2 separate regions of the Homo sapiens genome follow, and region 1 is linked to region 2. The links come from fine-mapping of genetic effects on gene expression. A gene starts in region 2. The other region holds a variant in brackets. All regions are shown on one strand. Distances are between the middles of the regions. Region 1 has its middle 54 kb from the start of CDKN3. Region 2 holds the start of CNIH1 (cornichon family member 1).

Region 1 (16,115 bases), 97 kb after region 2:
ATTGCTAGAAATTAGCAGCCAAAATATAACACGATAGAGTGTTCCTTGTAGCTTCCTTGCTCATCTTACATTGCCCATTGTAACATTTTTAGGATTGTTAACCATATCATTTCTTCATGTTTCACAGTACTGCACTTATAATTAGTGTCTATCAGTGTCTGTTATCATACTGTCCTCTTGGCTTTCAACCAGTTAATTATTTGTTGGATTGCTTTTCAGAGTACTGGCTGCCTTCCCTATGACGTGCTGCCTCCCTTCCCGCTGATCATCTTACTCTTCTGTTCTTTGCTATTTTCAGACACTATTTTGCACTCATTATGCACAAGTTCAAACTTTAGTCATGTGAAGAGAGCTGAGTGCCTTGTCTAATTTTTCAGCACCAAACCAAATAAACAAAAAACGCATAAAGTCCATTTAAAAATATCCACACTGCATCAGGGAACAGAGAAGCTTTTTCTCTCTCATGTGAAATCTTCTCCAGGAAACCACCAGGACTGAGGCCCCCATGGCGCACACATGCTTGCTTTAGGTGCTTACGTTAAGATGGTATTTCATTAGTTTTGGATGGTCCCTTCCACAGAGCTCAGATGCTATGCTTCTTTCTATTTTAAAAGGGGGGACGAAAAGATTGGCTTTTCATCCAAAATACTCATGTTCTTCTAGCATATTAAAATTCATTTGTGACTAAGTCATTATAGTGAAGTACTTGGAAACCTTTCTATTCTAGAGAGTTCTGGGCACAAACACATTTACAGTGTGCACTAATGCCAGGCTCATGTCCTCACGTCCTCCAAGGGACAGGGATGAGCTGGGTCATAAACCAAACAGTGGGACTCTGGCAATCCCTTTTAGCTCAGGCAGATGCAAAATTGAAGACCCAAAAGAAGCCTTCCAAAGGTCACAGCAGGTTGCTCTCAGGAAAAGAGAATCAGTAATTTATTTTTAAGCAATCTCTTAGCCTCTGTGACAGTTATGTTTCCTTGTAAGCTGCTTTGGAGCCACTCACCACTCTGAAATTGCAGAGTAGGCTACGAACAATCCGGCTTCGTAAGAACATGCAAGTGAGGACCCACGAGGAGATATTCTTGTGCTTTTTAAAGTGCTTCTCTCACTTTGCTTCCTAAACTGCCTTAATTGAGGCAAGGGAGCCAACATGAGTGAGTTCCTTCCCGCGGCTTGCTCTGCCGTGGAGTTCAAGGATGCCTGAGCCCTCAAAACACGGCGCGGTGCAGTTGGGCTGATGGGAAGTCCTGAACAGCTTGCTGAATTATTACTTCATTCTCGGCTGAAGCAGCAGGAGGCGAGATGATGAGTGAAGGAAAAAACCCATGGACTCCAGCGTGGGCTGAAGGAACCAAAACAAACACTGAGAAGACAGGCCAATACTGAAATCTGTTTCAAGGATGGAGCGCGCAGGAATGTTTCACCATATTTTGTCTAAGGAACAGATTTCATTTTTTAATGGCTGTATTAATCAGTGGAAGCAGAACGGCAGGAAGGAATCCGTTTTCCCCTCTCCCCAACGCCTCCCGTGGCTCGCCCGGACATTCCCCCCATTCTTTGTACTGAAGGTGGCCTGGAAGTTTTAGAGGCGTGAGACAGGTTCTGAACTCGCATGCCCTTTCTTTCTCCTTCCCGAATAAATTTTGCGTAAGAATATTTGGGACAAGGAATCCACCATGGCGGGGTGCAATAAAAGCGTTTCACAAATTATGATTTCCCATTCTCTAGGCAGTTCAGCTCTGCCTAACAGCTCTAATTTCCTAGACAAATAGTCCTCCCTGTCCTCTCCAGCTGCTCACAGGCGCCTCTCTCTGGGTATTCTTTTTAAAATCCCTCTCCTGGGGAATTTTTAAAAAAGCTTCTCGCACTTTTTCATGCGATTTTCATGGTTCCATCCATCTCCCCACTTTTTTGGTCAAAGCCTTCCTCCCAAATATCAATTGCTTTTTCAACCCGTCCATACTACTGCTCAGCTGTTGGTTGAGCTTCTCCTAGCCTCCTGCTGCTGTCACTGGGCCAATGGAAGCCAGTCCCTTGCCTCTTTGTTCTATTATTTTATGGCAAGATAATAAACTTCTACATTTTTGAAGTACTTTTCACCGACTTGATATCAAGTATTTTGATAATCACAAAGTGATCAAACACATGTTCTCTTTTTCCAGTTACATAATGAGATCAAATATTGATTAGCAGTGAGTAGATAGATGTATATTGTACACACACACATACACCCGACCATCCTCCTTTTGGCCTATGGAGACTGTTACTCCAAAGAGCCGACACATTTGTGTTGACATTTCAGTCATCCAAGAAAGCTGCCAATGTCACTTCCTTTGAATATTTTCCTTCAGTTTTCAGGAAAGAGTTGGTGGGACTAGCTTATCATGGATGGCATGAGCTGAGGGGATGGTAATTTTTCACAAAAGTAGACATTGTTCGAGGCTAATAGTAAGCTGTAATCTAGACTCATAACTGTAGAGGGCGCTCTTGACTTAATAATGACAGCATTGCCATTGTCACTCCAGGAAGCTGGGAGGTGACAGAGTATCCTTTTATTACCAAGTATTTTATGGGGAAAGAGAGAAGGTGCCTTTTGGAATAGACAAGAAATCCATATTGTTTCATATTACCTTTTATAACATGTCTTCTTAAGAATAAGCTCATCATCTAATTCGTAGCCCCTGGTTACAGTTTTGTTGAAAGTGCAGAAGCTTCCAACTAATGAGAATGAATCTCATCAATGTCTCATACCTTGTGTTGGTCCTGCCACTTGGTAATGGGTGCTTTGCGTGCTGGGAGCTGGGAGCGATCTTCCAAAAATGGCAAGTGGGGTGGGCACTCCTTTGCGGAAAAGCCTTCTGTGGGTTTCAATTTCATTTAGCATGAACTCCCCACTTCTTACTGTGCCCTACCAAGGCCTTCTAGGATATAGCTTCTTCCTACACTTCAAGCTCTCTTTCTCTCTTCCTTCCCAGGGGCCGAATCTGGGACAGCACATGGACCTTGCCAAGCGGGGCACACTCTGTGGCATCTGCATTTGCTCTTCCATCTGCACAGTGAGCTCTTCCGTGCATCTTCCAAAGGCTGGCTCCTTCCCATTTCTCAGTCCTCTGGTCATAGAAACCCCTTGGAGGGAACTTTTTTGACTACCTCATCTAAAATAGGCCCGGCCCCAGCCAGCTTTTCTTTTTTAATTAAAAATTTAATTGTGATATAATTCACATAAGATTTCACAAAACACCACATTCACCATTTAAAAGTGTACGATTCAATGGTTTTCGGTATATTCACAATATTATACGGCCATCACCACTATCTAACTTCAGAACATTTCCATTGTCCCCAAAAGAAACCTCATACCATGAAGAAGTCACGGCCCACCTCGCATTCCTCCCAGCCTCTGGCATCCACTCATCTACCGTCTTGTCTGTATGGAATTGCCTGTGCTGGGTATGACACACCCACTTCTTTTTAAATGTTAAAGCACCCTGTTTGTTTCCTTCCTGGCATGGATGTATTTGCTCATTTACTTGTTTACCATTTATTCTCACAATCTATGAATAAGTCGCAGAGTTTCTTCACAATTCAGTCTGCCCAGCCTTAAAGTGAGCCCAGCCTTTCACCATAGGATCCAATCTATGTGGTGGTGCAACCACTTCTGGGGCTACTGTGGAAGAGACTCGTCTGTGGTAGCATGCCCTCCAAGAGTTCTTGAGGGCTCTATATCTTTTGAAGGATTTTCTGCTTTTCACTTGCAACCCACAGAGTCATAACTGATTTAATCACCTTCTTCAGAGTACTGCGTGCATTTGTAGAAGACTCTTTAAGGCCTGGGCTTCTTGCTGCAGCAATAAATACCAGTAACCTTTACAGAGCATGGGCCGTATGTCAGGCACAGGGATATGTGCTTCACTTGTATTTTTTCCACTTGGTTTTATTACAGTCCTGTGAAATAGGTATAATTATTGCATCCCATTTTAAAGATGAGAGAATTGAGGTTAAGGGAATTGGCACATTTTACTCAGCTAGTTTGTGGCAGAGTGGAGACTGGAGTCCCAGCAGTTAGACCTCCAGGGCTCATGCTCTTAACTATTCTGCTCTTTCTTCAGCCTCTCAGACTTCAGTCAAGTGTTAGCACGAAGTGACGGTGTGATGTTTGCATGCGGCATATGAATATTATTGCTCCTGGTAAGATTGTTTACGATGACATCATAGACAAAGAAATGTTTCCTTGAGTTCCTAGTATAGCAGCTGAGCAACAGTTTTTGTTATATGGGATTCTTTTCTGCCCTTTAGTTTGGGAAGTGACCAGCAAGGTGTCCTGGGAATGCCAGGGGGCTGTATAAGTCTTTGCGCATGGATGAAAGGAAGAGGCATGAGATGGAAGCTCATGCTTCCAGAGCAGATGGCCCTTGGAAGAACTTGGTTTCCTGCAGGAGGGTTGACTCCCAGGAGAACTACATCTCAACAGCTTAGCCATGTGTATTAGTCAGAGTTCTCTGGAGAAATATAACTAATACATGATATGTTTTATATATATATGTGTATATATATGTATATATATATATGTGTATATATATGTATATATATGTGTATATATGTATATATGTGTATATATGTATATGTGTGTGTATATATGTATATATGTGTATATATGTATATATATTCATATATATGTATATATATGTGTGTATATATATGTGTATATATATTTAAAGAGATTGATTTTTGAAGAATTGGCTTATGTGATTACAGAAGCTGGAAGTCCCAAATTTACAGGGTGGACCAGTAGGCTAGATAACCTGGGAAGAGCCAGTGCTGTGGTTCAAGTCTGAAGGCTGTCTGCTGCAGGATTTATACTTGCTCAGGAAAGGTCAGTCTTTTGTTCCATTTAGGCCTTCAGCTGATTGAATGAGGCCCACCCATATTATGGAGGGCATTCTGCTTTACTCAAAGTCCACTCATTTAATGTAAATCTCATCCAAAACCACTTTCACAGAAACATCCAGAATAATGTTTGACCACATATCTGGGCTCTGTGGCCCAGCCAAGTTGATATAACCATCAAGGTGAGGTACTCAGTGCTCAGGTCCAGTTCACCTAGGATCTAGGCTGGAAGGCAAGGAGGGCAGTGTTGTTGGGAGGGCATTCTACCTCCTACAAGGTGAGGGGAGTCTGGATCTCATCTACTGTAAGGGATGACCAGTCGGCTCTCCAAGGGTGGTTCTGGTGGAGAAAGATGTGTCTCAGCCATCTTGAGTTTGCCCGGAGACCAAGCACTTGTCAGAGACCCACCTTTGGGTTGGTGGGTAGAAGAGCAGATGGTCTTTGCACTTTCTCACTGGGTGGATCTCAGGGAGTAAGTGATTATTCACCCACAGAAGGCCCACTTGGTGCTAGCTTGAGCCGTCTCTGGATTGTATTCATCCATTCAACAAATACCTGCTGACTGTTTATTACATGCCAGGGCTCTTCTAAGTAGTGGGGATACAGCAGTGAACAGACAAAAATCTCTGTCCTCAAGAAATTTACATTCTGGGAGTGAGAAGAGACAGACATCTAAAGAAAATAAAGAAGTAAAGTAGTATGTTGTAGACCAGATAGTGATAAGTGCCATGAGGAAAAATAAAGGTGAGAGAGGAAATGGGGAATGCCGTGGTCAGTGGGGTGGGGGTTAAGGGGGGTAGGGGTTAGGGGTGCTGGTGGCTTGTACTGTGATGTAGGGTGGTCAGGGAAGGCCTCCCTGTATAAAAGGTGCCTTTTGAGTGAAGAGCAAGTCATGAGGATAACAGGAGGAAGGGAACTCCGGGCAGACGGCACAGCAAGTGCAAAGCCTCTGAGGAAGGACTGTGGCTGCTGTGTCTGAGGACCCCAGAGGCCAGACGGCCTGGGACAGAGTGGGGAGGAGGAGCATGGGGGGAAGTGCAGTGAGAGAAGACCAGGACCAATAGGAGGCCAGAGGGAGTGGGGCCCCAGCACCACTGTGAGGCCTGGCTTCTAATCTGAGAGATCCGGAAGCCAGTGGAGGGGTTTGTGTGGAGGAGTGACACGGTCTGGCTGCTCTGCTGGGACAGACGGTGGGGTGTGTGTGGGAGGGTGGAGGGGAGAGCCGGGCAGAATCAGGGAGACTCTTCCTGGAATCCAGGGGAGAGATGGTGGTACCAGGGACCAGCGTGTTGGGGAGAAGTGGCTGGGTTCTATATCTGCCTGGAAGTTCAGGCTGAAAGGATCTGCGGCCTAGAGTGAGGACTGTGAAGTGTGTGTGTGTGTGTGTGTGTGTGTGTGTGTGTGTGTGTGTGTGTTGTTGAACAGGGGAGGTTTAAAATGTACCTTCCCATCCAGCCCTCTCCTGCACAACCTCACATCAAGGTTGGAAGGGGATGGTCTTTAGACTTTAGGATTTCTGCCCTCAACACGAGTGTCTGAGAACTGCCTTTGGGGGCTGTTGTAGGAGGTGAAACCAATTTGATCATAATGGGAGAGAAAACCCCTCCATGGCCCAGGGTGGATTTACCTGATCACCCATCTTTCCCGGTCCTTGGTGCCGTGTGGACATCTGCGACCCAGTGGCCACTCAAAGGAAATGACCTCATGAGCGTGCCTTTCAAGCCACACAGGATGGATTGGAGTGCGACATTTGGCCGGTCGCTCTGGTTTACACCAAATGCAACAACTTGTGGCCTGCAGATCCTCAGTATAAATAGCTGGAAAAGCCTGACCTTGACAAGCTCATTTCTCATTCCTTTCTTGTTACAGGTAATAGAGCTGAAAATGTGGTTTTAATTATAGCACTAATGAAAACTGAAAATCCAGACAGACACTTGATGAACTCTGCTGCGCTTTATATTACATTTGTGCTAACTACAAAGTGCCCAGCTGGGTGTAACATGATCCCCTTTCCTCGAGCATCCGCCTGACTGAAGCTGTATAATTGATGTGTACTTTGGCAGGAGGTCAGCTTAAAGGGTTTTTTTTTTTTTTCTTTAAGATTTTTTTTTAAACATCTTTAACGGTACTTTGGGGAAAGGGGTACGTTTATTACCTGGGCTGGGAGAACATTTCTCTGGGTTGCCTGACATGCCCCACCCCCATTCCAAACTTCTTCTAGAGCATTCCGTACAGCACCTTCAGGAGAAGCTCCAGGGCCAGAAATGAGCTGAGAGACTGACTTTAACTTGGAGCCCTGTAACTTTGTTGTCGGCCGGTGACTTTACCACGCAGCCCTCCTCTCTCTATTCCTACCTGTCAGAAGGACGTGTTCAGAGTCTCTGTAAGGGACAGTTTCGGTAGCTGTGACATGGAGGCTGTGACCCATTGGCCTTGCATGCTGGCCTTCGTGTGCTGCACTGCCTCTCTCCCCAGGCCATGGGGCTCCTTACACGTAGAGGTGCTGAATAAAATACAGGATGCCCAGTTATATTTGAATTTCAGATAAACAGCAAATGCTTTCAAATTATTTTTGTTTATCTGGAATTCAAATGTAACTGGTCATCCTGTAGTTTCATTTTTGAATCTGGCAACCCAGCTCATAGAGTTTCTGTGGCTGGACAGGGTCTCGGAAGGGACTTAGGAAGAATTCCTGCCCTGACTTAGAGACAATGTAAGGTTAACTCTGCTTTAGCTAACCACAGACCTTCATCCACATCCCATCAGACTACCACAT[C/T]GCGCTCTCACCCTGCTCCTTAGGCCACACCCTGCATTCACTCCTGTGGTTCTAGATGATTGGAATTCATGGCACAGCCAACCTCAAAAACAATGAAAGGTTCTGTAAAGGCCCACTGGTGATCATGGTGTCTTTACTGGCTGGGTGGGTGGCCAAGTTACATAATCTCTTTCTTGTTTAGTTTGTAATCTTTTTGTTTTTATTTACATTTTTGAATGGGTAATCTATTCATATTACTTACAGAGATTTCAATAAAACATGAAAGGTATACAGTAAGAAGTCTCCCTTTCCCTTTTCTTGTTCAGCCATCCAGTTCCTTCTCTTGTAGGCAACACATACTATTAGTTTCTTATTTTTCCTTCTAGAGATATTTATGCATAGATACACAAATAAGTATATATCCTCCCTCTTCCCGATTTCTACACAGCTGTCAGCATATTGGACCCACTGTGCTCATTGCAGTAAAAGCGTCTTCTTTTCTTCACCTCCAATATCTTGGAGATCTTCTCATACCACAGCATAAAAAACTTATTATTTTTTTAATGGCTGCATTGTGTGGTCATATCATTATTTATTTATTTATTTGAGACAGGGTCTGGCTCTATCACCCAGGCTGGAATGCAGTGGCGTGATCTCAGCTCACTGTAGCCTCGACTTTCTAGGCTCAGGTAATCCTCCCACCTCAGCCTCCCCAGTAGCGGGGACTACTGGCATGTGCCACCACCCCTGGCTAATTTTTGTATTTTTTGTAGAGGTGAGGTTTTGCTATGTTGGCCAGGCTGGTCTTGAACTCCTGGGCTCAAGCAATCTGCCCACCTTGGCCTCCCAAAGTGCTGGGATTATAGGTATGGGCCACTGTGCCCAGCCCCATCATTTAATCAGCTTCCTTTTGATGAACATTTATGTGGATTCCAATTGTTTGCTGTTACACACAGCAATGCAGTACATGCATTATTTGTATTTATGTGAATGCCTTAGGTTAAATTCCTAGATACGGAGCTGTTGGGCCAGAGTACATGCATACATTTGTAGTTTGCCAAGTTGTTCTCCATGTTAGTTTCCCATAGCTGCTACAACAAATTACCACAAATGCAGTGGTTTTAAACAGCACAAAATTATTATCTTACAATTCTGGAGGCCTAAAGTCCTCAAACCAAGATGTGGCAGGGCTGTGCTCCTTCTGGAGGCTCTAGGGGAGAATCCATTTCCTTGCCTTTTCCAGATTCTTGAAGCTACCTGCATTCCTTGGCTTGCGATCTCTTCCTCCATCTTTAAGGCTGGCTGTGTGGCATCTGCAAATCTCTCTTTCTCTGGCCACTGCTTCTGTTATCACAGCTCTGCTGGCTCTGACACTCCTGCCCCACTTTTGTAAAGAGCATTATGATGATATTGGGCTCACCTGGATAATCCAGGACACACTCTCCATTTTTAGATCTGCAACTTTAATCACTTATGCAAAGTTCCTTTTGCCATGTAAGGTAATATAGTCACAGGTTACAGGGAGTAGCATGTGGACATCTTTGTGGGGTCATTATTCAGATGGCCACACTCTCCATGGAGTTTGTCCCAATTTAAACTCCCAACACAGCCCTAACTCGCAGAATGTGCATTCAAAATTTCTGAATCTTTACCAATCTGAGAGGTTAAACAAATGGCATCTCCATGTAAATTTTACATAGCATTTTTCCTTTTATGGGAATGGGGGACCTATTCTTTAAGAATCATCTCTTTTTTGCTTTCTTTTTGAATGTCTATTCAAATACTTGCTTATTTGTCTATCAGGTTGTCAGTTGCAAAGTGATTATATGTTGGTGAGAGTAGATGGTGTTTCTGAAAAACAGGTTGCACTTTTTTTTTTTTTTTTTGCAGTTTGTCATTTGTTTTCACTTTGCTTTTAAAGGCTTTTTCACCATGTAAAAGGCTTTAGTTTTATGTAGTTGAATTTATCGAATTTATCTATGGCTTCTGGGTTTTGTGTCATAGTTACAATGACCTTCTCCACCTCAAGGTAATAAAAGAAACAGTTTCTTTTTAAATTTAAGTAAACAGAAAACATACAGTCTTTTTTGAAGAGGTAGAAAATACAGATTGACAATAAAAAAGAAAAGCCACCTAAAACATATACAGTATTCTGTGGTATATTTTATGTAAGAGGGGCCTACAACATTATGCTTTGTTTGAATGTGGGAGCAAGGCAGTGGGTCACTGAAGCTGGCCCACATTCAAGGGTAGTTGAGCCTATTGTGAGCATCTCTTCCCAACACTATGTTTGGTAACATCAATTTGGGAGTTTGAAATTAATCCTGTTGAGGGTGTTTACAGTATAGAAGTTGGCAGAAGCTACAAATCAGAGCTTTTTTCCCTAGCGAACTAGTTGTGAAACATTTACCAGCACACCACTAGGGCTAGAGAACTTGTTTTCAAAGCTTTTTTTATTTAAAAAAACCCAATAACTCAGTTTACTTAGGGTTTTTTGTTTGTTTGTTTGTTTGTTTTCTGTTTGAGAATAACTGAATGGCTATTGGTAGGACTAATAGGGATTGTATGTGGGTAGCTTTAGATCAGTGGTGCTTCTGTGCATGAGTGTGTGCAAACACACACATTTACTAGACAATCACGTGGTGCATTAAGTCTGGTGACCTGTTTTTTTTTTGTCTCTTTAATGGTATTGTAGCCATCTTTCTACCTCAATAAATATTTATCCGAATCATTATTTTAATGGTTGCATTTTATGCTGCAAAATGATTTATTGCATTTTGACCAATCCCCTGTTGAGACACTTATGAAACTTCTGTATGTCTCAGTTTCCCCCTCCAGTTGCTAGATGAGGCTATTCAGTTCTTCTCAAGGATGTTGGGATTATCAGTGAGAAAACTTTCAAGGAGTGCTGTGATACCCTCAGATATGGGAGATCTTTCCAGTGTTGGCATCACTCTTCTGACTACCCCCAACTGGGCAGGCCTTTTGGTATAACTAGCTCAGACCCCTTAGAAATGTAAATTCTGGAGCTATCTATGTAGCAACAGCAGCTCAGGAAGAGCTGAGCTAAATAATGGTAGCACTTAAGATGTGGATCCCAAAACACAGAAGCCCTGCCATGAGACAGACAGGGAAGGTGACAGTTAAGTCATAGATAACAAGACGAGGACAAATTCCATCAACTCACTGTGAAGTTTCAGACAGGCCAGCGGGAATGGAGGATTCAGGGTGGGGGATAATTAGAGAAGATATTTTTGGGCTAAGAGACAAAGTGGAAATGACATTTCCTAGTTAGCATGGACTAAAAAAGTGCCACACAATAAATCTTTCTCAGATTATCTTTTTTTTTTTTTTTTTGATCTTGCTCTGTCACCCAGGCTGCAGTGCAGTGGTGTGATCATAGCTCACTACAGCCTCAAACTCCTGGGCTCCAGTAATCCTCCTGCCTCAGTCTCCCAAGTTGCTGGGACTACAGGTGCATGCCACCATGACTGGCTATTTATCATTATTATTATTATTTTTTTTGCAGAGACAGAGTTTCTTAGGCTGGTTTTGAACTCTGGCCTCAAGTGACCCTCCTGTCTCGGCCTCCCAAAGTGCTGGGATTATGGGTGTGAGCTGCTGTGCCTGGACTGAATATCTTCAATTCTGTGTTTTGGAGAATTTAAGAGAAATATGAGAAAGGAATGAGTAGACTGATTTTAGTGAGGAAAAAATTGGACATTCTTTAAGTTCATAAACATCTTTGAACAACCACTTTGCCAGACATCAGCTTGATTTTGTTATATCCAGAACCACTGGCTACTGGTGATGCTTTTGATGATGAAATACAGTATTACTGCACTCAATTTAGTCCACAGAGTTATGCTGTGATGTTATTTGAATAACGTAATTGCTCTGAGTGGGATTACCATCTACTAAAGGGAGGAAGGTGCTCTGAACATTTTCAACAAGTGCTAAGAAAGATTATTAATATGTAAATTTAAAATTAGTGCCTACACTGAAGGTTTGAAAATACTCTTTCGGTGTTTCCTTGACCTTAAGGACAAACAGGCACTACCAAGGTGAAATACCATAACCTACTCTGGTTTTTGATTTCTTAAGACATGTTGTTGCCACTGGAAGGCAGTGTTGCTTAGCCACCGTGTGCATCCAAGACATTGGGCAGATCTGAAGGTTTGTCCTGAATTTGCAAGGAATCCTATTGAGCTAAAGAAGCGCTTTTCTATATGCCTCTTTTCAGAATCTGGCAAAGATCACGGGCTGCTCATGGATGCACCTTGCTTGTCGGGTGTTTCCTTTAAGCAGGAGTGTTGACTTTAATTATGTGAAATCAGCCTGTATGTACTAAGCTGGTGAGCCTTGATTCCCTTTGGTCTCCACCTTTCTCACTTGTGAAATGGGACCATCAGTCCTCGAAACCTAACAGCATAATGCAAACACAACACAACACAACAGAACAACCAAACAAACAATGGCGGGGTTTCCATACAGTCACACGAAAACTGACCAGTTGATCAACGAATTATAGAGGTATTCTTTCAGAAATCTCACTTTGACTATTGACTCTCATTAGACAAAATTATTTCATGATTATCCTAGTTTTTTTTTTCTCCTATCACCTACCATACTCAGTAGAATTCTAGGTAAATCATGAGTTTTCTCAAAGAAAACTGATTTAACAATTAAACACATATTCTTCCTGCATTTTTTTCTCCTTATCAACAAATCTTCAGGTAGGGTTTTGATTTAGAAGCACACTTCAGGATGCAAATTAGGGAGTACTCTCTTGATTTTTTAATAATATACGTCTCCCCTTTAGACTATTAATAGTAACCTTTATCTTTGTACAGTGGATTCAAAATTTAAAGCCTTTGAATATATTTTCTCATTGAATTCTCCTAACAGTCTGTGAATTTGGTAAGGGAGGAATCATGATTTCTATTTTGATGCTCAGGAAACAAGTTCAGGTTGAGTGAAGCTCCCAAAGCCAATTAATCAACTTCTGGTTTTAAACTGTGCTTTCCCTCTTCTTTGTATACACTACGTATGAACAAAGGACCTTCGTGACACAGGCTGTGGTGGGAAGGCTGGAATTATAGGCTTTTATTCACAGCATTTTTTGGTCCCATCTTTCTTCCTTCAGTTCATAGACAAGCTTACCTCATTTTGGTTTTGTCAATAAAGGGTCAGCACAGCATCATTTTTCATGGACTTATGGTGAATAAGGGGCTCCCTATGTTAAAAGCTTTTCTGCTTCTTAGGGGGCTTTAATCTAAAGAGTGTTTCTGCAGAGATGTCTTTCACCTGAAAGACTGTGGATCACTTTTCAAACGCGGAATTGTCTTATCTGAAATACATTTCTACCTGTGCTGAAAGACACAGGCATAATCAATGCCTTGATCATAGGAACAATCTTTATCAAAAGTGCTTTAGATCCTGAAGAGCCTAAGGGTAAGAGAGAGAGCGGCCCTTTGCTGGTGTCAGAATGTGGTCAGGAGCTCAGCTCCCTCGTGGACTCGGCTCGATGCAAGGTTTCAGCAAACGCTTCGGAATCCCTCTAATCCCTTCCGTGTTTTCAGCATCAGGTAATTAACATATTTCTAGATGCAGGTCACTTTAGTTCAATTGTTGCCTTTATATCCTGCAGCGGCTTAGTTTTAGTGTCATTTTAAAAACTGAAAGCTGCAGTGTACCAGGTAGTGAATTAGTTAATGAGGATTCTTTTGTCTATTATACTGGCTATCAATATGGATTGAAAGTTAAATTCACCTTCCTCATTGCCCTCCAGCAAAGTTCATGAATGAGGAATAGTCCCTCAGAAGCTGCTTAAAAAATCAAAGTCAGACTTACTATTAATACCAGTATTCAGACATAGTTGGTAAGACCTATAAGGTAGGTCCTTTTATCCTTGACTAATCCAGCTCAGAGCTAGGAGTTTTGAGAAGACTAGATAGATGGATCACAGCTGACATTCTTCTTTTTATGTTAACATTGTACCATGCTAGTGAAGTCTCTCACATTGTGCCTATATAATTTAATAATATATCACACACATATAACTTTTAATTTAAAATTTTAATTTTTCTCTTTTTTAAGGCAGGGTCTCACTGTCGCCCAGGCTGGAGTGCAGTGGCACGATCACGGCTCAAGTGATCCTCCACCTTAGCCTCCCAAGTAGTTGGGCCAACAGGCATGCACCACCACACCCAGTTATATTTAAAAAAAATATATTTTGTGGAGACATGATCTCAAATGTTTCCCAGGCTGTTCTCAAACTCCTGGGCTCAAGTGATCCTCCTGCCTTGGCCTCCTGAAGTGCTGAGATTACAGGCATGAGTCCCTGCACCCAGCCTTAAGATATTTTTAATTAAAGTTTTAATGAGATAGTTTTAGATTTACAAGCAGTTATAAGAAATAGTACAGAGATGTATTAGTCCATTTTCATGCTGCTAGTAGAGACATACCCAAGACTGGGTAATTTATAAAGGAAAGAGGTTTAATTGGTTCACGGTTCCACATGGCTAGGGAGGCCTCACAATCATGGTGGGAGATGAAGGAAGAACAAAAAGATGTCTTACATGGTGGCTGGCAAAGAGAATTTGTGCAGGGGACTCCCCTTTATAAAACCATCAGATATCATGAGATGTATTCACTATCACGAGAACAGCACAGGAAAGACCTACTGTCATGATTCAATTACCTCCCATGGGGTCCCTCCCATGAAACATGGGAATTAAGGGAAGTACGATTAGAGATTTGTGTGGGGACACAGCCAAATCATATTGAGAGAGATACCACATAATCTTTGCCAGTTTCCCTCAGTGGTAGCATTTTGCAAAAAACTATAGTATAATATCATAACCAGGGTATTAACAATAATACAATCCACTGATCTTGTTCGGACTTCCCCGGTTTTATTTGTGCTCACCTGTGTGTGTGCATATGTGCATGCATATGTGTTCATGTGCTTAGTTCTGTACAATCTTGTCATGTGTGTTCATGTTTCACCACTACTTCTAGACCCTGAACAGTTCCATAACTGCAAGGATCCTTCACATTGCTCTTCTATAGCCACACCCACCTCTATCCTGCCCATGCCCTCACCTTTCCTTAACCCCTGGCCACTACTAATCTGTCCTCCATTCCTAAAATTTTGTCACTTCACAAATGTTTTATAAATGAAATCATACACTATGTAATCTTTCAGGATTAGCTTTTTTGTTTTTGGACTCAGCATAATCCCTGGATAGTCATTCCAGTTATTATGCCTATCAATAGTCTGCTCCTTTTTATTGCTGAGTCATATTCCATGGTATTAATGTACCACAGTTTGTTTAATCATTTACCCATTGAAAGACATTTATGTTGTTTCCAGTTTTGGGCTATTATGAATAAAGCTGCTATGAGTATTCATGTACAGGTTTAGCATGAACATAGTTTTCATATATCTAAAATAAATGCCCAACGTATACATCATTTTAAAGAATAAAAGGAGTAGAATTTTTATGCTACCTTCCAGAAGTTATATTCTTCTAAAAGATGATTCACTTCAGCTTGTTTAGAGACTCCATACTTGTAAACACCATGAATATTTATTATTTCTATCTTGTCCTAGGTAAACAGAAAGGTTTTTTGCATGAAAATAATTTGGATTTCAGTCAATTCATTATGTGGCTATTTCATGGGGTGATGAGGTATTAGTAATTAAAAAAGAAAAAGGAGGCACAGGCAGAGTTATCACCTCCTGCTTTGCCTTGCCACCTCTAAACTCTGCCAGTTATATGAAGTCCCTCTGTGGCTGTCATAGGACATTGTGGTCATTTGTTTTCACACCACACTCCCCACCCTGCTGGTCTCTCAATTCCTTGAGAGCAGGGATCCTGTCTTAATTATCTCAGTAATGCAGAGTAGATTCCTACAAAATGTTTCTTAAAGAATGCATTCCTTTTGTGCATAGGATATTTTATAAGTCATCTAATATATTTAATTTTCATTGAACTCATTTGATTAGAAATAGGAAAAATGTACCTTAATATTTTCCAATTATGTTATTATGATCTTATATACGAGAAGGAATTCCTGATTAAGACCATGCTTCATAGAAAATTGGAGAGTAGTTTAATATGTGTTAGGGTGAAGGGAATTTGTTAAGCATGGAAGTGATATAATCTAGTACTTCACCTGAGATAAACTAGATGGAAAATTCAACTTTTCCCCATGTAACGTCAAAAAATGACTTAAGCCAACAGTAAGCCCAAACCTGCATTTTGTAGTGTGATTAGTATATGTGTAAATGTAAAAATTCTCTACATTTTGACAGTTGAAAGATATTTAATGTCATTTTAATTCAGGCTTATACAAGGGAGGATTTCAGCAACACTCCTTGGAAGCCATAGCTATCACAACAGAAAGAGTATCAGAAGTCTAGGTAATTTTATTTTTACCATCAGTGGTTTGAGTTTGGTAT
Region 2 (16,115 bases):
TTCATCATGGTTGTGTAACAGGCACTCCCAGTGCAAAGGGCAGAATGGATGACACAGCCACCAATATTGAGAAACTACATCCTGCTGGGCAGCCTGAAGCTCTCTACTTGCATGCTGCCGTAACCCAAGGTTTTGGAAAGGTACATAGTGAGCAGAAAAAAACATGAACACATTGTCAGCTCTGCCACATACAGAAAATAACTGAGAATCACACATTGTTCTGGAGGGGCAGAGCTACCTTTTCTCAAAAAAAAAAAAAAAAAAAAGAGAATCCTGGGAAAGGCTTCTCTTCTGAGTATGTGGCATAGGGGGCATAAAGCCTTGAACAAACTCTGAGCTCTGCCAACAAGAAAGAAGTGGGAGTGGGTTTGGGAGCAACCAACACTTTCGGTTACGCATCCCATTTTCCCCAGCTTCATAACTATTCTTTCCAAGTCTTATGTCTGAGTCACATGTCTAGATCCATAGCCCACCCACAACCACCACTAATTACCAGGTGAAATTGCTTCTTCCCCAATTACACAAACATCTTCTGGAAGACTGGGGACTGATGACCTATAGTCTTCTGTGCCCAGGGTTCTTTCCTCTTGGAAGTGCCTCATTATTCAAGGCAAGGGCCCAGATCATCCGAAAGCATAGTGGATTGCATATGGCATTTGTAACTGGGATGAGATGTTCTCCTATTATTCTCCCTTTGTGGGAGTCCTCACTAGTTAGTTGGTTGAGGATAAATTTACACCAATGCAGAGCTTTCCCTTTTATGTTACCACCATGTCTCTGAGCATCCTACGCCCCCACCTGCCCTGCCCTTGGCACTGGAGGAGTGCTGGGCAGAGTGCCAAGCCTCACTCCCACCTGGATGATCAGTGGTGAAGTATGGCTTGCTGTCAATTGGCAGAAACCCCGAGCTGAGCTGCCAAGCAACTCCCTGGAGTTTGGCAAGGTGGTGCTTGTTTCCTTAGAGCCTTGCAAGTTTCTTGAGGTCACGTTCTCCTAACTGCTCAGCGCCTCCCCCTTCCCTTCCTCAATACCAGCTTTATCTAGTTGGGGGTTGGGGAGGGTGCTGGAAAATTTCTCAGATGTGTATCTGAACTTTTTCTGTGTATCTGAAGTTTTTCTTAGACTAGATGCTTTGTATTTGCGGGCTTTGTTTTCCAGGGCTCCAAGCAGCTGACTTGTGTCTAGCTGTCCAGATTGGGAACATGGCTAGTGGGGGCAGTGATGGTAAATTGATGGAAAGAATTTGAACAAAGGAATTTGAGGGAAGGAGGAGGGGAAAGAAGGAGGGAGAGAGAGAGAACAAGCATATAAATTAATCCTTCTTTGAAATATTATCCAGCCCCATTCATACATGCAAGTCAAAGCAGGAACTTAATTCAGTATTTACTGCAAAAGTACTCCCATGGGCTAAAAGAATTAACGCAAATTCCAAAGAATACTAGGAATTGTTTGAACACAGAGAGTATAGATTTCTCACTGTCTATAATGGTCCTCCAAAATGTCAAGTAAACTCATTATTTTCCTCACTACCTTGTCTATGGTTGGTTGATCCAACTAGCTCTTTATCCTCTTTCAAAAGGGTGTATTCTCTCACAGATTATAGCTGCTTAATATTGTCTAAAGTACTGCTGCCCAGTAGAACTTTCTATGTTGGAGGTATCCTATATCTATGCTGTCTAATATAGTGGCCACATGAGGCTATTGAATACTGGAAATATGAGCGCTGGAAATATGGCTAGCGTAGCTGAGGAACTGAATTTTAAATTTTGTTTTTATTTTTTAATTAAAAATTTTTTTTGGAGACAAGGTTTCATTCTGTCACCCAGGCTGGGGTGCAGTGGCGCAACCATGGCTCACTGCAGCCTCCAACCCCATGGCCTCAAGCAATCCTTGTGCCTCAGCTTCCTGAAGTGTTGGAATTGCAGGTGTGTTCTACCTTGCCCAGCTTAATTTAAATTTAAATAGTCACATGATTAGTGGCTCCTGTATTAGACAGCACAAGCCTAAAGTTTACCTGTGTGCTCTGGTAATATGTGAAGGGGGCTTCATCCTACTGCAGCTTATATAACTGTGTGAATCAGTCAGCACTCCACCTGGCATAGAACAGGTGCTCAACAAACCTTTGTTGAAATACCTAAAATGCTACCCTTGAAGAAAGTTGGTGGGGAACCTGGGTTTTATGTAACCGCTGTAGGGGTTGAGGCAGGCAAAATTTCTCTTACAAATTTCCTTTCTCCTCAGGTGAAATAGGGGTAGCCCCTTCTAATTAAGGGTGGGTGCCTGGGAGACAGTTTCATTCTATGAGATAAGGTGCTAGCCTAGTCAGCAGAGAAGGAAAACACACATTTCAAGTGAAGCCGGAGAAAAACTTGTTGCCAAAAGGTAGGATTTCTTGGTATCTGGTGATGAAACATCATTTCCCAAGTTGTAGATGGGATTCATCTGGAAAAAGGGGGTTCGATTTCATGGTTTGGCTTGAGTAGTTCCCTGCAAACTCTCTCTCCCGAGCCCAGAAAGCTGCATCTGCCTTTCATTAGATTGTGAGTTCTCTTGCATAAATATTGCCTGATGCTGCGTTCTGCCGTGCCCGTGGCCTTAAGTACTGAATTAAATATCATTTGCCTCCTTCTTCGCTTTCACCAGGGCATCCAGTTAATCAAGTTCAGCTGAGCTTGTCTCCCAACTACTATCAAGCATGTTTACCCCTTTCCTTCCCACCTTCCACTGCTCTAGTTCAGATCCATAGCAACTTTTGCTTGGACCATTGCCGTGGGACCCGATTTCCAATCTAACACTCCTCTAATCAGGGTCATTGTGCACAGTTGGGCAGTTTGTGCACTGCACATAGGTGCACGACCAGGGTTGGTGGGGCTGAAGTATAGCTTGTGTTCCTACACTCTGGGGTGGGCCTCTGTCCATCTGCAGAAAGTAACTTTACAAAAAATGTTATTGGATTTTATTATTTTAAAAAAGAAATAGAGATGAGATTGTGCCTGGAATTGGTGGGTTCTTGGTCTGACTTCAAGAATGAAGCCACGGACCCTCGTGGTGAGTGTTACAGCTCTTAAGATGGCGCGTCTGGCGTTTGTTCCTTCTGATGTTCGGAAGCGTTCGGAGTTTTTTCCCTCCTGGTGGTTCGTGGTCTCGCTGGCTCAGAAGTGAAGCTACAGACCTTCGCAGCGTTACAGCTGTTAAGGCGGTGCGTCTGGAATTGTTCGTTTCTCCCTGTGGGCTCGTGGTCTTGCTGGGTTCAGGAATGAAGCTGCAGACCTTTGTGGTGAGTGTGACAGCTCATAAAATCAGTGTGGAACCAAAGAGAGAGCAGTAGCAAGATTTATTGCAAGGAGCGAAAAAACAAATCTCCCACACCATGGAACTGGACTTCAGCGGGTTGTCCCCGCTGGCTCCGGCAGCCTGCTTTTATTCTCTTATCTGGCCCCACCCATGTCCTGCTGATTGGTAGAGCCGAGTGGTCTGTTTTGACAGGGCGCTGATTGGTGCGTTTACAATCCCTGAGCTAGACACAAAGGTTTTCCATGTCCCCACCAGATTACTTAGATACAGAGCATCCACACAAAGGTTCTCTAAGGCCCCACCAGAGTAGCTAGATACAGAGTGTCCATTGGTGCACTCACAAACCCTGAGCTAGATACAGGGTGCTGATTGGTGTGTTTACAAACCTTGAGCTAGATACAGAGTGCTGATTGGTGTATTTACAATCCCCGAGCTAGACATAAAGGTTCTCCAAGGCCTCACCAGAGAAGCTAGATACAGAGTGCACATTGGTGCATTCCCAAACCCTGAGCTAGACACAGGGTGCTGATTGGTGTGTTTACAAACCTTGAGCTAGATACAGAGTGCTGATTGGTATATTTACAATCCCTGAGCTAGGCATAAAGGTTCTCCACTTCCCCCCGAGACTCAGGAGCCCAGCTGGCTTCACCCAGCATATCCCACACCGGGGCTGCAGGTGGAGCTGCCTGCCAGTCCCGCGCCGTGCACCCGCACTCCTCAGCCCTTGGGTGGTCGATGGGACTGGGCGCCATGGAGCAGGGGGTGGCGCTCGCTGGGGAGGCTTGGGCTGCACAGGAGCCCATGGAGGGGGTGGGAGGCTCAGGCATGGCGGGCTGCAGGTCCCGAGCCCTGCCCCGCGGGAAGGCAGCTAAGGCCCGGTGAGAAATCGAGTGCAGCGCCGGTGGGCTGGCACTGCTGGGGGACCCAGTACACCCTCTGCAGCCACTGGCCCGGGTGCTAAGCCCCTCATCACCCGGGGCCGGCAGGGGCGGCCGGCTGCTCCGAGTGAGGGTCCCGCCAATCCCACGCCAACCCGGAACTCCAGCTGGCCCGCAAGCACCCTGCGCAGTCCCGGTTACCCCTCGCGCCTCTTCCTCTACACCTCCCTGCAAGCTGAGGGAGCTGGCTCTGGCCTTGGCCAGCCCAGAAAGGGGCTCCCATAGTGCAGCGGTGGGCTGAAGGGCTCCTCAAGTGCCGCCAAAGTGGCAGCCCAGGCAGAGGAGGCGCCGAGAGTGAGGGAGGGCTGTGAGGACTGCCAGCACGCTGTCACCTCTCAAGATCTCATTACCTTGTCCAGGCTGGTCTTGAATTCCTGAGCTCAAGTGATCCTCCTGTCTTGGCCTCCCAAAGTGTTAGGATTACAGGCATGAGCTGCTGTGCCTGGCCAAAAGTAACTTGATAATTTGCACACAGGTGCCACATAATCCTGGTGGTACAGGTTGTACTGTCCAATACACTAGCCACATTTTACTTAAAGTGATGTGAAATTTAAAGTTCAGTTCCTCAGTCATGCTAGACAATTTACAAGTGCCCAATGGCCACATGTGGCTAGTGGCTACTGTATTGGGCAATGTTTAGGTATCGAAAATTTTCACCATCACAGAAGGTTCTATTGCACAGCACTGGACAGACCCTGCTTCTAAACTATTCTACGCAATTTGCTAGGTGAACGATCTTTAATGCAAATCTAAACATGGTCTTCTTTTGCTCAAAAGCCTTCAATGATTTTCTCTTCCATCAGCAGCAATCAGTTAATAGAGTTTTTTTCTTTTAAAAATGGTTGTAATGGAAAGTTAAATCAATTTTGAATCAATTTTGTGTGTTAAGACCAGCATTAAAAACAAGTAGCAAAAGAGAGAAGGGAAAGTACTTATGGATCATTAGTACAGTTTTGTGAAATTTTTGTTTTGGTCATATCTATATTTCTTTGCCTCTATAACTAGATTTCCACCTCTTCATAACTTGATGTCTGTATGATATTCCACTGGGTTGCAATGAAAAAAATCTTTCTAGTTGTGTGTGGTGAGCAAAAAATTTGGGCTTATGGGATAAGAAGTCTGAGCTCCGTAATGAAGCATTATAAGGCCCTCTATGATCTGATCCCTTGCTAATTCATTTCTAAGTCTCACCACTGTCTTGCACTTAGGTTCCATTAATACAGAATTGCTGCTGGTTTCACCTGAGACACGAAGCTTTATTTTTCTTTTCTTTTTTCCATCTCTGTTGCGTTTCCTCATTCTGAACTGTTTCCTTGGACTGCCAGTTCTACCTTCTTTTTGCCTGGAGAACTTATCATCATCTAAGGCCAACTTAGGAAACACCTACAGCAGGAATCCTGCCTAAATGCTCCAGGGCGGGCTGGCTGTCCTTCTTTGACCTTTCAGAGCATCCCACACACATCCGTTTACGGGGTTATAATAACGTAATTATTTATTTAGGTGTTCATTTCCGGCACTATACTAAGTTCTTTCAGTGCAGGTACTATCTTATTCATCTTTGTATCTGAAGCGAGAAGCGCGGTACCTGTAACAAACTAGGCATTCATTCAATAAATATTTGTTGAAAGAATAAACGCAAGAAGGAAGGAAAAATCAATCAACAACTGTGCGGACAATGTCAGTGCAACGCAGACTCCGGCCATCAGAGGGCGCCGGGGCGGCTGGGCTGGTGCGCAGGCGCGCTGAGAGGGCTGGCGCCGCGGCGGTAGCGGTGGCGGTCGCGGCTGTGGCCGGGGGAAGTGAATGGTTTTACCCAGAGGGCCCTGCGCCGCCTTTCTCCGCTGGCAACGGCGCCGCTCCCCGCTCCTCCTCCCCAGCCATGGCGTTCACGTTCGCGGCCTTCTGCTACATGCTGGCGCTGCTGCTCACTGCCGCGCTCATCTTCTTCGCCATTTGGCACGTGAGTAGCTGGGGCTGGGGAAAGGAGGGCGAGGCGGCAACACAGCCTCTTTTCGCCCCGGGCCCGCGGTCCGGGCCGCCACGGCCGCCGGGGCTTTGCGCGTCGGGGATGCGGCCCGGCTGGCACGGGCCGCGCGGCGAGGGGTCTGGGGGCCGCGGGTACTGGAGGAGCCGGGGCGCGCAGTCGCCAGGTGGACGCGCCCGCGTTGCCTCGGCACAGGCCGCGCGCACCGCTACTCCTCCCCTACTGGATGGGGCGGCCGCGGTCCAGGCGGGCGCCCGCGGTTCCGCGCTGCGTTCGCACCGACCTCTGCCGGCCCGCGGCCCTGCATTCCCGGGGAGGATGTCGACAGCGCGGTGGGACGGCCGTAGTGTGAATGAAGTTTTCCGAATTTTTGTTAATACAGATTGACTTTCTTTTAGGGTTTCCACAGAACTGTGGCCAAAATGTAACCTACTTAGGGTGAATTTCCAACTCTACTTTTCAGCACTTGTTCGGTGCTCTTCAAATCAAATCACTTTTTTTCTCTTTTTCCAGATTGTTGTTTCCTGGTGAACTTTGATGCAAGTTCAATTGATTACTTTGTTGATTGCATGTGCGCGTTTCCCCCCCAAATCATACTTTGACCGCTGGAGTTTCAACAGGCAGCTTTCCAAGCCACCCTTATATTCAGGATTGCTTGATTTAGTAGAGGGAGTTTTCATTTGATTTTGAGATGCTCAGAAACCTTAAGCTTTTCTGGGGCAGTATTTATTTCTGTTACACACATCATCATCACTATTGCAGGGTGGAAGCACAGCCTTACTGGTCCCTCTAAGGAAAAAGTCGTAAGTTCCCTGTGACATAGTTCTACAGAGATAAGAATTTCTGTTGCTTTAGCACAAAATTAAAAGCCTTGAGAGCCTTCTGGAAATCATTCATTAAAAATTTATCTCATACTTGCTTCTCTTTTCCCCATATTCCAGTGCCTTCTGGAATGTTGCTTTTAATTTGAATGACCGCGTTCACTCTTACGTAGATTTTAAGTCAGGTTTCATCATGCCAGTAACAAGGATTTCTATGAAACATACGGAGGGGCAGAATGATTAAACAGCAGCAGCGTCTTGTGCAAAAAAGTCTCGAAAGTGGAAGCATATCACAAATCCATTCCTTTTTGCTAAGCAGTGTGATTATGTTTACAATTATTTTAGGACCTGACTGCTTATTGTAATCAGGAATACTTATGTAGGCTATTAACTGTGTCGGAAATAACTGCTACCTCAGAATGCTTGTCAGTAGGAGCAGTAATTTGAAGAGCATCTTCAGCCCTGCTTTGATGGAAGAACAATACCTAAGATAATTTGGGATACAGACTAGCTCAACCTTAGTAGGCCTCTGATGAAAATGTGTGGTTCCATGGCCGGGCGCGGTGGCTCACTCCTGTAATCCCAGCACTTTGGGAGGCCGAGGCGGGAGGATCACGAGGTCAGGAGTTCGAGACCAGCCTGGCCAACATGGTGAAACCCCGTCTCTACTAAAAATACAAAAAAATTAGCCGGGCATGGTGGTGGGCGCCTGTAATCCCAGCTACTCGGGAGGCTGAGGCGGAGGAGAATCACTTGAACCCAGGAGGCAGAGGTTGCAGTGAGCCGCGATGGCGCCACTGCACTCCATCCTGGGCGGAGACTCCGTCTCAAAAAAAAAACAAAAAAAAAGAAAGAAAGAAAGTGTGTGGTTCCATTCCATCTGTAGATGTAGCTTTAAGTCATTCTGCTTGATGGGTATTCCTTTTTTCTGGGATGATGGGGATTCTTAGAGTGGTGGGGTAGGCTTTTTCACATTTTTACGTTTTGAACCAGGTTGTGTTTGGCTTAAGGAAAACCTGAACCGCACTTTCAAAAAATGGGTAATTTCAGCTTAAACAAATGCGTGTCTGGGTGAAGTAAATAATTTTAAGTCGTGTTATACAATGAAAAAAAAATTATACCGCAGATTCGTGGAGAGCTTTTATGCTTAGGGATTTCTTCATTCAGAGAATTAGTATCCTTTTGGAAACAATTCTAAATAAATAGATAGTTTTAATTTTTCTATTACCCATATAACCTTATGTTTATCATCTTAGGTAGTATCTTAGTCCATTCCTTTATAGTGTTTATAGTGTTGCTATACAGGAATACGGGAGGCTGAGTAATTTACAAAGAAAAAAGAGGTTTATTTACCTCAGGATTCTGCTGACTATAAGACTGGGCATCTGGTGAAAGTCTCAGCCTGCTTCCACTCATGGTGGGGGAGTAGTGTGTGGAGATCCCATAGTGAGAGAAAGCAAAGGAAAAAGAGGGGGAGGTGCCAGGCGCTGTTTACAAGCCAGTTCTCTTGGGTCCTAATGGCAGGAGAACTCACTTATTCCCTCCAAGATGACACCAAACCATTCATGAGGGATCTGCTCCCATGACCCAAACACCTCCCGTTAGATCCCGCCTCCAACATTGGGGATCAGATTTCAACCTGAGATTTGGAGGAGTTAAACCAAACTCTAGCAGGTAGTTGAAGTATCTTTCAGAAGACTCATTTTACAATTTTTAAATTACATTCCAAAAATCTTATTTACATTAATCACTGTATTAGAGAATGTTTTTTATGCTGATGATTATATCTGTCAATTTAGTCCTAATTCATGTCATTGATGCTCTGTGGAGAATAGAGTCGGGAGCATAGATTGTTTGAAAAATTAAAAGCTTAAAAGTCATTCCTTAAAGATGTGTATTAAATTGGAAGGTATTCTGAATTGTGTACTTGGGCATCTTTAGGGATTTATCTGTTTTATTTTTGTTATACTTCTGTAGGAAATTTTGTGGGTGTCTTTGCTCAGCCACATAGCTGCAAAAAGATTTGAAAATCATTAAGAATATTCTCAGAAGAGGTTCGAAAACCCTAGCCTATAGCACTCAAAGAGAAACCCATTCAACAACATAGTTAAAAAATCCCTGTGACCAGGCACAGTGGCTCATTCCTGTAATCCCAGCACTTTGGGAGGCCAAGGCAGGTGGATCACCTGAGCTCAGGAGTTTGAGACCAGCCTGGGCAACATGGTAAAATCCCATCTCTACAAAAACTACAAAAATTAGCCAGGCATGGTGGCATGCACCTGTAGTCCCAGCTACTCCGGAGGCTGAGGCAGGAGAATCATTTGAGCCGAGGAGGTGGAGGTTGCAGTGAGCCGAGATTGTGCCACTGCACTCCAGCCTGGGTGACAGAGTAAGACCCTGTCTCAAGAAAAAAAAAAAAAAAACCCTTGAAGTCACCTGGAGAAAATGTCCAATTAAATGTCAGTTTTAAAGACAAGTTTTGTATTCTGTTAAGTTGGATCTTGTTATAGACAAGTACTTATGATTATCATCCTTGTCTTGAGCTTTATTACTAAAATGCATTGGGGTTATATACCACGGCTGACGTCAAGTAGCAGACTAATAACGTCCATAAGTAATCAGAAATTAGTATTTTCTAATTACACATGTATGTTTTTAACATTTGTGTTAGGTGTCATTAGCCAAGGGAAATCCCCCTGGTGAGTTCTGCATTTTTTTTTTTTAATCCCTAGTGCTATTTTTTTCACCCCCTCCTTCCAGTTAATATTTATTGAACACTTAACTATGTGCCAGGCACTATTTTATATTTTAGGCCCTGGGACATAATAGTAAATACAACAATCTTTGTTCTTTCAGAGATTACATTCTAATGTTTTATTATTTTCCTTCTATTGTTGTTTGGTTGGAGTTTTTATTAGGGCAGGTGGGTGAATTTTATGGAACTCTAGAAATTAAAAAAACCGTCTTTTTATGAATCTAAATTTTAACAGGGAAATAAACAGTCATGTTAAAAGATGGAAATATGTAACTTTACTGATTACTGATAATATTGAGCAACACTTTCACATATAAAGATACTATTCCTAACTCATTAAGGGAAGGGTAGCTTAGTTTGTGTGTCCCTGGGGTGAGTAGTGTTAGCAACTAAAATGGCTCCCCCATCAACTTGCTGCCTTTGTTTTCTTTCTTTGTCACCTGAAATGATGCCACAAAGTGGTGCAGAGTCCCTATTTTGACTCTTAATGTACATTCTAGTGACCCTTGAGGTTGAAGCCACATTCCTCCAGAGTGTGGACAAAAGCATCCTTACAAATGTATGTGTTTGGGCACCAATGGGAACACATTGAAGAGTTCGAATCCATCTCTAGTGTCCCACTGAGCACTGTGCCAAGGGAGGAGGAGCATGCACAGATAAATAAAAATGGTCCTTCTCCCTGAGAGTGTAGAGGGGCAGACAGACCTGTGTGTAAATACCACACTCCAGGGTGAGAAAAGCCATATCGATGGCATTATAGAGTCCCATGCTGTGTGGAGATGTGGGCAATTACTTCTGCCCAAAGGAGTTAGGAAAGCCTGCAGAAAGAAGTTGACCTAGGAAGGTTTGTTTTTTTTTTAGGATAAAGAGGAATTTGGATAAACAGTTGAAATTATTTTTCTACTCAGAAGATTATTTCGAGTAGAGATAAGTTGAAATAACTTGAGCAGAGGCATTGACGAAATTGAAAATTGAAGGTATTTATTACAGTAATACCAAATTTTAGTGATACTGAGATAAGAGTGTTTTCACTTTAAATCGCATTCTGGTTCTTTTTGTCATATATGAGTTTACTGTAAATTGGTATTTGGGATCTTGGTGTACTTTTGTTCTTGTTTTATTAACTTTAATAATTATTTGAAGATGGGGCAGGTTTGTTGCTGCTTTTAATTAAAGTGAGTGGTCCTAACTGTTTTAATTTTATTTTAGATTATAGCATTTGATGAGCTGAAGACTGATTACAAGAATCCTATAGACCAGTGTAATACCCTGAATCCCGTAAGTTATAATATAGGATTTATCTTTAGATTTTAAAAATATGTTTGTTTTTAACTTGAAGTAATTTGAAAATGGCCAGTATTCTGAGTAGCATAATATATTTGTACTTTTTGAAGTAGGCAGAATTTAAAAAATCTTCTTTTTCCTGTCGTGCTTGACTATTCTATTATTAATCTGCTGGTGATCTTGTCAGCTGTCATACTAACATTCTTCCAATCTGCTTTTTACATTGTCGGCCAAAGACAGTTGAAAAGGTCAAAAAGATTAAAAGAGTCAAAATTGCATTAAAGGTGTGTACTGCTTTTTAGTTAAATGTTTTAATGCTATATTCATTTCATGGGGAGGGTTAGGGCATTTGTATTTGTAACGTTTTGTTCAGTGTGCTCGTTCATATGCCTGTTGAGGTTTATGATTTCATGAAATTTCATATTTTATGCAAATATATGCTTGCTGGCCCAGTCAAGTAGGGAAAGCTGTTAAATGCGTATGCGTTTTTTTATGTTATAGCCATAGGCACTTCTATGTGAAATTATTTGGTGTAGTACTTGAAAGTTGGTTAACATAAAATGACTAATAGATGGTGAGATGATTCTCGGGTTGTGACTTATTGTGAGGTAGTATGTGAGTGAAATCTTTAGTATGGACTTATCTGCCATATCTAGTTTTATCTTTGGTTTGCATATTCTGGAATAAATGAGTCATTCTTTCAGCTGATGTTTATTCAGAGCCTGTTAGGTGGATAGCTCTGTTCTGGGGGCTCTGGGATCTCGCAGCAATGCCATTCTTTGGACTTAGGGTGCCATAATTTTGTAGATAACAATTTGTATACAAATGTCTATGTGGTTATTTCTAGTGTGTATCTACTTTCTGTTTCTAAAACAGGCCTGAATTACACTGAGTTCTGAGCCATCATGAATTTAGTGATAATGTAGCTCCATTGTGCTTAGGGTTTTTGAAAAAATATATATGTATGTATTTTTAAATTTTCTTTTGAGATGGGGGTGTCTCTATATTGCCCAGGCTCTTATCAAACTCCTGGGTCAAGTGATCGTCCTGCCTCAATCTCCTGGGTAGCTGGGATTACAGGCACACACCAGGGTACCCAGTTTGTTTTTTTGTATTTTTGCCTGCATTTAGGAAGATACTCTTTTAGCCTGTGTATTTGATTTTGCCTGACTGGTCAGTAATTGAAAGGTTGGTTGTTTATAAGAAAGCAGTGGGTATGTCTTCAAGAAATAAAATACAGTAATTCAGCTTTAAAAATTACTTAACGAAGGGGAGAGTTTGTGTAGATTTTAATTGTCTAGCATACTAGTGTACTAGCACTAGGTGCTAGAGGGATTTTATTTGGAAAAGCATCTAGAAAGTTAGTTTGGTACTTTATTATTGTTTCCCAGATAAATGTGGATGGTGGAAGAGATTTCTAGTTTGTCTTTAGAGAACTGTTACAGTAAGAGTTGATGTAGGTACAATTAAAAGTATTAACTTATTAGCTGTTTCTTTGCTCTTATGAAACAAGACATAAGAAGATGAATTTGCCTTCTCTTGGAAAGCATTAAGTGTTAATTTTAAAACATCTTAACCTAAGTAGTTGAAGTTGTTACCAGGAAATGAAGAAACTGAAATTTCCCCTTTTGATAGCTGTTTATTAATAGTATTCTGTGCTGTTTGTCTTTTCATTACTTCAATAACCAAATGATGATGAAGGTAAAAATATTTGAAATCAGATGAGGATTTTCCTGGGTGCTAGGCTCTGTGGTAAGCACTTTGCCTGAATTTTTAAATTTAATTCTCATGACAATCCTGAGGTAGGTAAATTGTTATCTCATGAATAGGAGAGTAAACTGAAGCTTTGCCAGGTTAAAGCACTTTGCCGAATGTTATACAGCTAAGATAGAGTCAGAACTTGAACTCAAGACAGCCTAATTTTTGAAGCTCAAGTTCTTGTATTTTCCTAATGTATTGTAAATTTAGGAGGGACAGGTTTCATTTTAACAGGTAATGTGCGATTCCTGGCTTTTCTTAACGGAAAGAAATTCTCACTGAGAAGAGACATGTGCTTGGGACATCCTAATGCTGCAGGAGGTTGAAGGACGTTTTTATAGCAGCACAGGTTGCCTTTTGGATAGGGTGCCAATAATTGGCTGAATAGCAGTGCATCTGACAGTTTTCCCTATTTAAATTTGTTTTGACAGTTCTGCCAAAGTATGGGGGAAGACAAATATCACTATTTTTTAAATTGTGAACTTTAACAAGAGAATATTATATTTTGCATGTTTAAATGTTATCATTTCAGCCATATTTGCTTGAGGTTTTTTTTCTGGATACTAGTTTCTGTTTGAACCTTGGTTCCTAAATTGAATAATTTTTGTGTCTCTTATGGGGAAATTTTGTCATTAAAGAATGCTCGGAGAGGGTTGGTTTTTAAGAGAGATGGGTAGTAAATGTTTCTGGACTCCTTTTGAGGAGAAGGGAGGGAATGGCATTGTTTCATATTAGAACTGGTAGAGTTGTAGATTATCTTTATTAACACTTTTATTAAAGTAATATTAAGAGCGGGAGGGGTTCATGCTTTCAAAATCATTCTTTCCATACTTCATTCTGTAAGTGTAGGATAAAACCTTGCATGAGGATTTGTTTGTTAGGTATCAGATGGCTTTTTAGGGCTGAAATAGGCTTATATTTTAAAGACAACGTCTGTAATTTAAACAAGTATTATAAAAGCAACTCTAGTGGAATTCTTAATAAAATGTATATTTTTCTTGGTTTGTTCTGGTTATAGTCCTTGAGTTTCAGAGTCCTATGGCCCTTTTCTTGTTTAGAGAACTTTGATCTTAAATAGATGCTGGCTTAAATGTTATTTAGAAGTTTAGGTACATATGCCGAGTTTATCCTTTGTTATTGTATTGCTTAAGTTTGTAGAAAATATTTGGTTAGTGGTGTAGATGAGTTGTTTACCTGGATTTTTTTTAAAAATAGTATTCATTAGAAAGTCCCCTCTACAGCTTTAAATTGGAAAGAGTAATTTGGGAGTATGAGAAAATGGGTCTGAGTATGTAGTGTGATTACAATATCTACAGCCATGGTTTCCCCTCAGGAGTGATCTGATGATGATAAGTATTCATATGATTTCCATTTGGTATGAAGTAAACATTTGAGAAACTGGCTTTGTAGCTGTGACTTACAGGAGATACTTCGGCTGAAACTTGCAATGAGAGGTTTTGGTATTTTTATTTAACAAAGTCCTCAGGCTGAAATCTTTAGGATGAGAAAGATAATTTAACATAAAGCATTAACTCCTGGTCATTTTATAAAAAGCATTTTGCTCGAATTAATTTTTCTTCACTTAATATTACCTAGTACCAAAAGGTTTATTTTGTTTTTGGGTTCTGAGCTTCTACTGGTCTTCTGTTGTGTCTGTAGCATTTTGTTGGCAAGCAGGGGTAAAGAAACGGAAAGGCCACCTAAGAATGAGAACTTGGGAACCTGGAAAATCTTAATTTCATGGTTAAGAACTCAGTCTTTTCCCTCCTACATTGCAGAAAGCGAATCTTTTACATTTGCGCATATTAGTGTTCTTCCCCTCACTGTGCTGAGATTATTGGCTGATTGGCTTTCCATTAAAAAATTACTTCTGTGGGAATGCAATGTGGTTTGCTAAATATTGTGTATGTAGCATTTCTGGTTTTTGTTAAAGGCTTAAAAACACTGATATGTAAAATTCCAAAGGGGAGTTTTGTTTCTGTGGAATTTTTAATATGTTGCATGTGATCAGATATCTCATTTTTGTACTTCTATCATTGTTGAATGGTGAAAAGAAAAAGTATTCTAGTTGACTAGCATATTGTTTAACAATCTGGGTGGTAACTTTATATAATTTGATCTGTTTCTCTAAGGATTTGAGCTTTGAATTTTAAGTCATGTATCTTACTATGTTAGTGCAAGCTATATGCTCTGGTCAGTTTGCCTGTAATCCTACTTTTGGTAAAAAGTTAAACATGGAAATAAAACTCAGTAGCATCTTTTATTTCTGAGTCTAAGAAAACAGTGATTTTTCATTATGGAAACTTGGTTGCCACCTGCTTTCCAGATTAGTAGTTGACTTAATGCTGAGGCATTTTGATAACTGGCTTGTGTTTTCCTTCCAGCTTGTACTCCCAGAGTACCTCATCCACGCTTTCTTCTGTGTCATGTTTCTTTGTGCAGCAGAGTGGCTTACACTGGGTCTCAATATGCCCCTCTTGGCATATCATATTTGGAGGTAATATTTAGATACACTTTTAATATTTTTTTAAATTAAAACTTAAATATACTGTGGTTGATATGGTTATCTTACATGCTAGTCACCTACATAAAAATGGAAGATCAGTTGGCATTTATTTTTTTAAAAATCAAGTGGGTGAACAAAAACTATTTCAATACCTCATATAGAGCTTACTTTATTTTTAAAGGAATTTTTTTAAAAAGTGAAGTATAACTTAGTGTTGTGCACAAGTCTGAAGTATATAGCTCAATGAATTTTTACATACGTATACACCTGTTAAACTACCACCCAGATCAAGATACACAACAGTTGTAGCCTCCAGAGCATTCACTTATGCCCCATCTTAAGTCAGTTACCCTCCACACCTCCCAAGACCACTGACCTCTATCAACTTAGATTAGCTTTGCTTGTCCTTGAACTTCAGGTAAGTCAAAATGTACAGTATGTGTCTAATTTCTTTCTGTGTTTATGACTAATTTTGGTTATTTGTAAAAGATAATATTTTATAACTTCCATAGTAATATCTGCCGTATATAGAGTTAGAAGTTTTTGTTTTAAATAGGCATGTCAAAACCTTATTGCCCTTGATTTTAGGAGACATATACTGAAGAAGTATTTAGAAGTAAAGTGTTATCAGGTCTACAATGGACTTTGAAATGATTCAGAAAAAAATGTACTTGGCCGGGCGCAGTGGCTCACGCCTGTAATCCCAGCACTTTGGGAGGCCGAAGTGGGTGGATCACAAGGTCAGGAGTTCAAGACCAGCCTGGCCAAGATGGTG

What was found. PIP is the estimated chance that this variant, and not a neighbour inherited with it, causes the effect.
Region 1: its variant is fine-mapped to the expression of CNIH1 in substantia nigra (GTEx, PIP 0.97).

Annotation. Positions count from the first base shown.
Region 1 is chr14:54,334,563-54,350,677 of GRCh38, reverse strand. No RefSeq gene overlaps it. Among named protein-coding and RNA genes, the nearest start is that of CDKN3, 54 kb to the left of the region's middle. RefSeq lists an enhancer at 10,440-10,961. The variant C/T (reference allele first, on the strand shown) is at 7,667.
Region 2 is chr14:54,431,324-54,447,438 of GRCh38, reverse strand. CNIH1 (cornichon family member 1) reads left to right here and starts at 6,065. Exons shown (of 5, transcript NM_005776.3): 1 at 6,065-6,192; 2 at 11,002-11,070; 3 at 15,219-15,331. The coding sequence starts at 6,112. RefSeq lists enhancers at 5,722-5,781, 5,658-6,456 and silencers at 5,862-6,131, 6,172-6,531, 6,542-6,591.